Linked DNA regions of Homo sapiens: region 2 is linked to region 1. Evidence: fine-mapped expression QTL. A gene starts in region 1. The other region holds a variant in brackets. All regions are shown on one strand. Distances are from middle to middle. Region 1 holds the start of HIPK2 (homeodomain interacting protein kinase 2). Region 2 overlaps HIPK2 (homeodomain interacting protein kinase 2).

The links. PIP is the estimated chance that this variant, and not a neighbour inherited with it, causes the effect.
Region 2: its variant is the best candidate, but not a certain one, in a credible set for the expression of HIPK2 in whole blood (TOPMed, PIP 0.64).

Annotation. Positions count from the first base shown.
Region 1 is chr7:139,775,080-139,780,448 of GRCh38, forward strand. It overlaps HIPK2 (homeodomain interacting protein kinase 2), which reads right to left and starts at 2,919. Exons shown (of 15, transcript NM_022740.5): 1 at 2,526-2,919. The coding sequence starts at 2,544. It also overlaps a transcript of TBXAS1 not described here. RefSeq lists silencers at 2,515-2,604, 3,035-3,264.
Region 2 is chr7:139,712,072-139,717,440 of GRCh38, forward strand. It overlaps HIPK2 (homeodomain interacting protein kinase 2), which reads right to left. Exons shown (of 15, transcript NM_022740.5): 2 at 3,861-4,944. Among named protein-coding and RNA genes, the nearest start is that of HIPK2, 63 kb to the right of the region's middle. RefSeq lists enhancers at 1-630, 2,341-2,830, 4,044-4,544, 4,545-5,045. The variant A/C (reference allele first, on the strand shown) is at 2,406.

The DNA of each region.
Region 1 (5,369 bases):
GAAACAATTCCCTCTCGTGTCGTTATACTTTTCCTGAGAAGAATCATGCACACTCTTTAGGAGCTCAAAACCCACAAGGAATCCCTCTTCTTATAGAAATCTACAGGAAAAGCTCTGCTCGTTTAGCATGCACACAGGGAGTCCATGTGCTCTGATTGAGACAGGGGAAAAATCAGGTTTCCTGAACCCAGAGGATGTCACCACGGCAGGAGAAAGGAGGTCATCAGAGTCTTGGCACACTCATCACAGTGAGTGAATGCGGGTCCTAGCAACCTAATCCTTGATTCTAGAAGTCACCTGTCTGTTTTAGAGCATGTCCAACAATCTCTTTCAAAAACACCCAGATCTGGGCTTTTGGCAGACTGATGTGGGCCAGTTGAGGTGGGATGGGGAGGAAGATTAGAAAAATAATTATAAAGGTGCACAGATAAACATCCGGAATAAAAGGGTGCACAGCGCAGGAACAATGAAGAGGGCACACGGACAAGATGGAGGGAAACTGAGGGCTGAAAGAGGCCACCGCGGAGGTCACCTGAGACAGGGAAGGAAGGCTGGCAAATAAAAACAGTTCATGAGACTTTTGAGATCCATGATTATTCTTAAACCGTAACACCCTACACACCTGCAGTTCTTTATCTGGCGTAAGGAACTGGAAGAACAATGTAGCAGGAACGGGGAGAGCCAAGTCTCAGCCTCGGGGGCATGGCCTACCTTCCATATGGATTTAAAATGAAAGGAGCAGGAGGAGAACAGTGCAGTTCCCAAGATGGCTTTCCACAAAGTTGACAAAATACACCCCAACTCACATACCCGGTCCCTAGTAACAGGGAAACCAGCCGTTTACTATAGTTCTGAATTCAATGCCAAGTTCCTTCTCTCAACTCACCGGGAGTGTCCAGCAGAGGGAGTCTCAAGGAGGTACTTAATAAAGAGAAAATTGTTTCATTTTAACACTCTAGACAGTGGGAGCATTGACTGTAGCCCCCTCCTGTAGACGCAGATGAACAATGAACGCCCGACATGGGTTCTCCCGCATGTTCACATGTCCACCGGCATGTTCTATTCTGCGTGGTGGAGTGATCAGAAATTTCGTTTTGTTTTGTCGAATGGTTAAATGGACCTTGTGTTCTTCAGAATCAAAGAGGAAAGCCCCTGGAATAACATCTCTCTGTTGCCTTCTAAACAGCCCCTTTGTTTCTAAGAGAGTCTGAAAAAAAAATATTTACAGTCTATAGGTTATTTACAGCCTCGTTATCCAGGGCCTGACTGGTAACTTTATTCCGGCCAGAAACCTAATTCATTTGGAGCCCTGAAACTAATAACAGATTTTCTTTTAAGTTTTTTTTTTTTTAATCAGCCTCTTATAACAGAGATAAAACTATTAATGCCTTCCCTGTCTCACTGGCCACAACTGTTCTCCGGATTTACAGGAGGATTACATTCCCCCCTCGTGCCCTCCTCTGTGCCACACAAACCCTGTCCCCTCTCATTTGCGATTTCATCCACAGAATATCTGAACAAAACCGAAAGAAAGCCGGGGGACCCACGCTAAAAGTATGTGAAGGCTGCGATTTCAATGATTTCATGAGACAAACATTTACACGATGAAACGACTGAAAAATCAGACACACTTGGGTTTAAAATTTCTCCTACTACAAGCACACAAAAACACATCGAAGTGTAAAAACTTAGTTGATTCTGGGTTGCTTTCTGGCTGGAAGCTGACAGAACGGACTGAAGAGAAACGAAAGACAGTGTGCGAGGCAGACCTACTGCTTTTCTGCCTTGCGTTCTTTTCTTTCTTGCTAAAGGCAGTCAAATGGGGAAAAATACCCCGATGCCAGGTGAAGGTGCACAACACAGATCGACCCAGACCGAGCCAGAAAAACGTCTCCGCCGCTCCCCCGGCTGGAAAACCCAAAGTCCACGTCCCCTTCCACACGCTAATGAGGGGAGATTTTCGCCTATTTCATTGTTCTGCCTGGCTCTGACATGGACTTTTCATCTCTCTCCTCTCTCCCCACCTAGCCCCGTGCATTCCGATTCCACAGCCCCCCCAAAATCGGAGGCTCGCGGAGAATAAAGGAGCGTGGGGTGGGCGCGGAAAGAAATGGGAAGGGGCGCGGGGCGGAGAGCGAAGTGGAAAGGAGGTGCTCCGAAAGGTAATGTGGGGGGGCGGTGGAAGCTAAGCCGCATCACCTTCATTTATCGCAAATAAATAAAAAGCACAGTCACCGGTCCGCCTTCCCCGGCGTCCCTGCCCTCCCCGGGCAGCCGCCCACCCTCGCACACGCCCCCTCCCCTCCTGCGCCCCCGGCCCCTCTCCCCGCCCTGGAAGCAAGACCCTGCCGGCGCCGGGTCCCGGTCATCTTCCGGGCGAGGGAGGGGGTCGCGGCCCCCTCGGGCCCCGGGTGGGGGCTGGGGCAGGCGCCGGGGGCTGCGGGCGCGGGGCCGCGGGCAGAACAAAGCTGCGGGGGCCGCGGAGGGCGGCGGGCGCGGGGTCGGCGGGGCCGGGCGCCCCTTACCTTCGTACACGGGGGCCATCGGGGCCGGGGTGTCCGCGGTTCATGGCAACGGGGACGGGAAAGCGGCGCGCGAGCTCGGCCCCCCCAGCCTCAGTCGGAATCTGCCATCTTGAGCCTGTGTCTCCGCTCTCGGCGCAGCCGAGGCCGCCCGCGCCCGCATCACCGCCTCCCGTGGCCGGCGCCGGGGGAGGGGGCCGGGCGCGCCGCCGCCGCCGCCGCCGCCGCTGCCGCCCGGGCCCGGCGCGGGGGGCTCGGGGCTCGGGGCTCGGGGCGGCCGGGCGGGCGGAGCGGCCGAGGCCGAGGCGCCGAGCGGCCGCGGCCCCCGAGCGGATCCGCGGAGGGGCGGGAGCCGGGGGCAGCGCGCGGCCAGGGCCGGCGGGGCTCAGCTCAGCATGGCTGGGCGCGGGGGCTCCGCAAAAGTTGCTGGCGGAGGGGGGCGGCGGGCGGGGGCGGGGGCGGGGCGCGGGGCCGGGAGAGCCACAGGGAGTCCGCGCGCAATCGAGCGCCGATGGCACGGATGCGAGGCGGGGAAGGCCGAACCGAAGGGCAGAGCCGCGCCGGCGGCCCGAGGGGACCGCGCTGGGAGGGGCTGCCGCGCAGCGCGGGGGGACTGGGCGCAGGGCGGGCCCCGGGTAGTGGGTGAGAGGGCCGGCCTGGACCCGGCGGGCGCACGGCTCCGAGCCCAGCGCAGCCGAGCCGGTCTGCAGAGGGGCCCCCAGAACTTTGTGTGTGTGTGTGCACGCGCGCGCGTGTGTGCCCAGGTGCGAGGGTTCGCGCGTGTGCTGGCGGGGAGGGAACCGACCCGAAAGAGAGCCCCACGCTGGCAAAGTGGCTCGCCCATCTCACAGCCGGTTGGCGCTCGCGGAGGTAGGAGTGGAATGAATGAATGAAGGAGTGGGCGCGCGCCGTGCTCCGGAGGAGGGCGGGTGAGTGGAGGAGCTTCGGAAAGCCACACGAGGTCAGAGGCACCGAAGCCCTGCCGTGCACGCCGCGGAAATGCAGCCCCCGGGGTGGTCGCTGGGTTCCTGCCGGAGTCTGGCTTCCACGCCACCCTGATCTTCTCCTCCTCGCGTCTACACTGTCCCGAGGGCCGCCACTCCATCACTTGAATGGGAGCTCACAACTCTCTGGGTCCTCGCTTTTCTCAGCGCTCTCTCCTATCAGGGCTTCCGCTAAACACTCTCCAGACTCTCCCCAGCCGGGAGCCTCTCCAGGTTTGCTTCTCCAGCTGCCTCCCGGATGCTTGGATAGGATGCCCTGCCATCCCCTCCAACTTAGGAAGACTTGTTGAGTCTCCTCTTAGGCACTGTTTTTAAAACTGTGGGTCGTGACACAGTAATAGATCATAAAATAAATGCAGCGGAAGGCAACCAGCTTTCAAAAAGAACGAAATGGAATCCAATAGAAAATATTAGAGTCCATTGCCCTTAGTAAGGGCAACTATTGTTTCATAAACCTTTTGTTTCGATTATAGGTACTGGACAAGTGTACTGGACCATGATGTCAATTTTATTTCCGTCTGTGAATCGTGGGTTTAAAAAAGTTGAAAAGCTATCTGTGTAAAATAATGATCTCTAACACTGTATAACTTTCTTAAAAACAACCTCGTGATTTTCTCACTACTTCTTATCCTTTCCGGTCTCCATCCTCCGTTCCCATCCTTCAGTCCTTCCCAAAAAAGGCAAGCTCTTTCACACTTTTTTAGTGGTACATCACGACACCTTCCTCTGTGTGATCTTGTACTCTGCGGTCTTCCTTGCCCCCATAATCAATGCTACACTTCCTATCCCTTCTCTTAACCTAATGCCATTCACGTTTGCAGAATCCTAGACTACTGTTGCTAAAAGGACCTCAGAGGTCATCTGGGCCAGCCCTGCCCTTTTAGAGTTGAAGAAATGGAGTCCAGAGAAGTAAAATCTGTTGCCCAATGTCACACAGTATTGAAGCTTAGGAATAGGTCTCGTGGCTCCCACTCTAGTGTTTTTTGCTCCACACCGGTCATTTATCTCCTTCCCTTCTATCCTCCCTGCAATCTTTAACTTTAGTCTTGGCCCAGGTCATCCTAAATATTGCCATCTTCATAATACGTGGTTCTGGCCATGCCACGCTCCTGGCTAACATCCTCTAAGGACTCAACCTCTGCAGGTGGGGCTGAGTGCCTTGGCTTTTCATCAAGGCAGGCGAGTCCTGACTTAGCTTTCTAAGGACATGAGTTCAGCAAGTCACTGCTTCTCTAGCCAAACTGGTTTACTTGTAGCCCAGTGCCAGCTTCACCCATCTCTGTCACTGTGCCTTTGCCCAAGCGGTCACTTTCCCACCCACTTTCCCAGAGGGGTACCTTCTCCATCTTCTCTCTTTAAGCAGATTCTACCTGTGCCTGGCTCACCTCCTCCACAAAACAGCCCGAGATAGCGTGGGAGTAAGTCAGACCTAGGTTCAAATCCTAGCTCTTCCACTTAACTATGTGATCTTGGTCAAAATGCTTAACCTCTCTGAGCCTCAGTGTCTGTATTTTGATTATGAGAAGGAGAACAATAGTAATGTTCTCCTTTTGCATCTGTAAATCTCTATCATAGCCTTCACCACACAGGTATGTAACTCCCTGTTAATACATACCCTACATGCATGTCTCTCTGCCCCTTTCTAGTGCTGGCCATTAGAACTTGCTGCCATAATGGCAGTGTAGCTACTTATGTCTGTGGAGCACATGAAATGTGGCTAGTATGACTGAGGAACTGAATTTTTAATTTTAATAACCATGGGTGGTTAGTGGCTACCATTTTGGACAAGGTGTCTCTAGACTGTAAGCTCAGTAAGGACAGAAACCATGTTTTTCTTGTTTTG
Region 2 (5,369 bases), 63 kb before region 1:
CTGTGCACAGTAAAGCCTGAGAACCTGGGCAGCTGACAGTTAATGACATAACTGACCTTCGAATTGGAAGGGAATACCCCTGCTTCAGACTCGAGAAAAAAACTTAAAAAGCAGCCTTTGTTTCCTGAAAAACACACCAGTGGGCTTGCCTCACAGAATACCAACAGCCACTGTGGCCAGGCACATGCCTGAGAGCTGGGGAAAACAGTTGGCTCCGGGGACACCACCTCCTTTTCCAAGTCCCCAAGGCGAGGATAACATATCCTTGTCTCACACCGTTTCTGTGTCACTAGGTGGGGACAATGGTGGGATGAGACACTTAGCCCAGTCCCATGCAAAATGACAGAGGGACACATAAGTACTCTACCTTTTGAAAGTCAGATGTCCTGGGACGATAATGTGCCCAGCTCAGATACAGGGGGCCGAGGGGAGAAAGTCCCCACCCACCACCTGCAGGACAAAGGCCAACCTGCTGGGAGGCTGGATGCACAGCATGCAATGACTCCTCCAGCCCAGGCGGCTCAAACACACAGCCATTCCCTCACGATGCAGATGCAGCTGAAAGCATCTGAAAGCGTCTTCTTTCTGGGACATGGGCCTTAACGATGGACAATTAAAGAGCTTTTCTTGCCCCCTTTCTTTCCTATAAGAGGCAAAGCCACCAGGAAAATCAACTTGATAAACATGGCCTAGAGCTGGCTGTCCCACACAGCTGGGACGAAAAGAGACAGAGCACTAGAGACTGTCCTCGAAAAATCGGATCGATCTATATGGTGGCAAACCACTGCAGGGCTCAGACAAGGCCTGAGGGAGAAACAGAACATTGCACCAACTTAGAAATGAAGCCTCATTTCAGGCAGAAGAGCCGCTGTCTTTCCTGCTGACCGTATTTTTGGAACCAGGGCTGGGCACAGGGAGGCTGACATGAGGGCCTGAAGGTGACCACAGAAAGGAGAAAGAGGCCTTCTTGCTCAGAATTTTAGGCAATGGTGATTTCAGGGGTGAAAAGAGGGTACTATCACAACTAAACGGAGGGTCCTTCAGAGGGATGTGGGGACACAGGGGCCAGATGTGACTGTGCCTGTCACGAAGTGGGGAAAAGAGGGCTCCTGAGGGCCCAGGAACCGCCAGCAAACCAGCCTACCACACCCACCAGAGGCGTCCAAAAGGCCTGATCTCACCCACAGAGGGGGGCAGGAGAGGATCGCTGTGAGTCCAGGTGAAGGAGTCAGCCCTCCCCAACCCTCACAGGCAAACTTTTACTGCTGCCGCAGGCTTCCTGAGCTAGGATCCCCGATTTTGCGACCTGTCTCCTCAGCACTAGGGGCACCAGCACCAGGCAGGAAAGCAAAGAAAAACTCGCAGAGTCCAAGGGGATGGGCAGGGAGGGCTCCAGGAAGCGTCACATGGGCACCAGAAGGCAAGATGACAAGGGGGTCTTAAGAATCCCCAATTCAGCTTACTCGATTCACCAAGTTTCGCTCTAAGGATGTGCTGCCTTTTAAACAGAGTTTGTCGAAGTCTTTTTACAAGTCGCCATGCTAGCTTTCAGTGAATGTTAATAACACTGGTACGTGTTCATGATGCAGCAATTCAGATGAACTACATAAAAGCCCTAGCAGCCAAGTCAGGGGCTGTTCACCCTGAATTCAGGCCAAGAACTAGAAAGAGCCAGCCTTTGGCATGCTGAATTTACCAACCTAAATACGAAGTGGCACAGCAGCCTCCCAGAGCCAGCACAGCACCAGCTAGCCCCCAATGGGGCTGGTACCCGGGACGGCCACCAGAGCTGGCTTTCAGAGGCCCAGGCACTCTCTACAGAGAATATGTGCTGTCGGTACCGGGCACCCAACCCTCCAGATTCACTCAACCATTGCCCATCCTTCTCCTCTGGAGACAAGGAGAGGCTTCTTGTCTTCCTTGGAGGCTCCTGCCCTGGGCTTACTTCTCCCTGCCATTGGCTCTGGGGCCAGCGGGGCACAGAGTGGATGGCCTGGTCAGGACGAGGGAGTGGAGAGCAAGTGGAGGGGCAGCAGTAGACCCGTCTGTCCGCACGGGGCCTGGTGGTGAAAGCACAGGCCTGTGGAGACCTTTCTGCGCATAGGAAATGAGCGGGAAAGGAATCCTCAGGGCAGGGCAGAGAAGAGGCTCGCAGAGAGCTGTTCTAACTCAGGAAATGCCTCCTAAAGGGAAGAGGGAAGAGACAGAAACAGCATGGGTGAAGAGGCCTCGAAACCTCCTGTGTGAGTCAGGATTAGGATGAAAGGAGACGGGGTGGAAGGTGGGAGGGCATCTGGGGATCCGAACGGAGGGGCTGTTGCTCTCCCAGGGAAGGAGGGCCTGGTGCCCAGCAGGCTGAGGGAGGGGCTGGGAGGAGACTTGCAACAGCTCTGCCTGCAGCCAGG[A/C]TGGGGGCCCGGACAGGGAGCAAGAAGGGGAAGCTGGCCCAGGTCAGCCCCAGGAATGGGTGACAGGTCAGCTGTGTCGACAAGGCCCTGGGGCATGTTCCAGCCTTCTCTCTGTGGCCTTGAAAGGCGCATGGAGAAAGCACACGGGCAAGCGAGCGTGCTTGCTTGCAAGCAGGATGGCCTCCGGGGACCCCGGTCTTCCTGCCTACGTGGCACGCTCTTAAATGTGCATCCGTCCCATCTTCTCATGGGAGTTTCAGTTTTGTTTCTTGTGACCTCTATCTCCACTGCACTGTTCGGCACCACCCCAAACACACCCCCAGGCTGGTTCCACAGAGCAGGGTCTTGCTTTCCATCCCTGCCGCCTCCCCGCTGTGCACCCGCCATGGCCAGCCACGGAGTGACACACCTAAGCCATGTTACAGCCATGTTACCTCCCAGCTGCCCACGAGGCTGGTGAGAGGATTTCTCCCACTTCATGGGTTAGGAAATGAAGGCATGGAGAAATCAGGCCATTAGGAGAGGAGGGACCAGGTTCACTCTGGCCTTTCCTGACTCCAAAGCCAGCACTCCGATCTCAGCTCCATGTCGGCAGCGGTTCCAATCCTGACTGCATACAGGGGTCCCTGAAAAGCTTCCAGATACCCCAGGATGGCAAGGGCCCTGTCTATATCCCTATACCTAGCACTGCGGCTGGCACATATTAAAAGTGAAATCAAAGCTTGTTGAATGACTGCATGTGTGAGTCCATGACTGAACACACTTCCCTGCCACGGACACTATCATTCCTCCCTCATCCTGACCCAAAGCCTGAAGTCACCTTACCACAGGAGCCACCCAGCTGGCCCCAGACTAGTCTCTCCCTTCCTCCAGCCCTTCTGCACGTGGATAGACAAGGAACCTTCTCGGAACATCCCTTTCAACCCGTTACCTTATGTTGTTCAAGGTTTCCAGGGCTTGCTCTGGGTTTGAGGATACAGTTGCAATTCCTTGATCTGATATTTAAGACCCCCAGTGACCTGGTTCCAACCAGGCTTTCACTCACATCTCCCACCACTCACAAACTGTTCTGGCCAGGCGGGTGTCCTTCTTGTCTCCTGTAAATTCCCACTAGTGTGACTGCGGACTGTGGATGGCACATCCCTCTCTCTCCACCACCTGTCTGGATCCTACCCATCCGGGAGGACGGAACTCTTCTGCTCTGCACCCCAGGTCCCAGGGAGCCCTTCCAACGCTGAACACCTGTGCCACGGATCTTACCTGGCTCCGTTCTAATGTGACTTCTAATTGACATCGCAATGTGCACATGTCCTAATTTCGTAAGTACATTAAGATCACTTGAAGGCAGGAACTGTAGACATATAATTTTATCTCCCCACAGTGACTAAGGTGGCACATTCTCTGTGAGTGCCACTGGGCATTCAGCAGCTCCTGTCTCCTTGTGGACGGTCTTACCTGTAATATCTGGACTGCAAGTAGGTGGAGCACACAGCCTTGGAGACGTGGCTGGCTGAACCAAAGTCGATGACCTTGACTCTGTATGGTTGTCTAGATGGATCCACCAGCATGATGTTTTCTGGTTTGAGGTCAGCGTGGATAAGACCTAGGCTTTTGAGTTTCATCAGGGCTGTGGCTACCTGCTGGAGAACTGGGCGAATGTATTTGAGGGGCAAGGGGCTAAACTTGTTTTGCTTCAGAAAGTCATAGAGGTTCTGCTCCAACATCTCGAAGACCAAGCACGTGTGGTTCTTGTGCTGGAAGCATTCGTAGGCCCGGACGAAGTTATAGTCATCGGCACTCTCCGTGCTCAACCGGGCCAGGATGCTCACTTCAATCTGACCTTGTCGGGCATAGGATGGGTGGTTCTTCAGGATCTTGATGGCTACGATCTCATTGGTGCCCCGTTTCCAGCACTTGACCACTTGCCCAAACGTCCCTCGGCCCAAGAACTCTAAGACCTCGTAGGTGTTGGTCATGGAGCACAGCACCTCATGCTGCACCAGCTGATAGTCGCCCTCGCTGTTGGAGCCGCTGTTTTTGGAGGTGGCAGTAGACGTGGTGGCAGTGGCGACAGTGGCCCCGCTTGCATTATTCTGAATCATGGGTGGATGCTCCTCGATGATCTGCACGCTGCTTGTGTTCTCGATCTCCTCGCTCTTACGCTTGAGTCCACATTTTTGGTAGGTATCAAGGAGGCTCACAGTGCTTCGACGCATTAGGTTGTGTGGTCCGCCGAGGACTTGCCCGGTGACAGAAGTGCTGCTTGCTGAGGTGACCACGATGTGCCCGGTGCTTCCTGGGAAGACGATGGTCTGCTCGTAAGGTAGGCTTGGGTTTGGGACCGGCAAGGAGGTGCTGACGGTTGTGGTGGCTGGCTGCGACAGGGGGATGTTCTTGCTCTGGCTATACACTTTGCTGTGGGAGCCGTACCCAGTCATGTCCCAGTTGGAACTCGGCTCTATTTTCAGTTTCTTCACACTACAGAAGGCACTTGATTGAAGGGTGTGAGGGGAGAAAACTTGCACATGTGAGGCCATACCTACAAGGAAAGGAAAACGAAAAGTAAGTATCGGAGTCACCTTGGTACAAGTAAACTCAACAGATCCCCTTCAGTTCTCATCTGTGGCTTGGGCCATACAGAATATATTCCTCCCACTTGAAAACAAGGTTGAAAAAGTGAATCTCTTCCACCCAGAAGCACATTCTGGTCACTGAGTTTGTGGAACCAAGTGGTTCCAGGGTGCCACTTGCCACCATTAGGTGCCAGCAACACAGCTGAGACTCAGAAACAGAATTCCAATATCAGGACATAGGTCACCATTTTTTTTTGTAAACATTACTTGTGACAGAAATGGATTCTTCCTCAGTTCTCCCTGGGTTGCTTTCTACTGAAACTCAGGAGGCTCTGCTGTCACGTACTTCGTTGCCCACATCATCAGCTCAGCCTTGTCCACAGACCCTGTC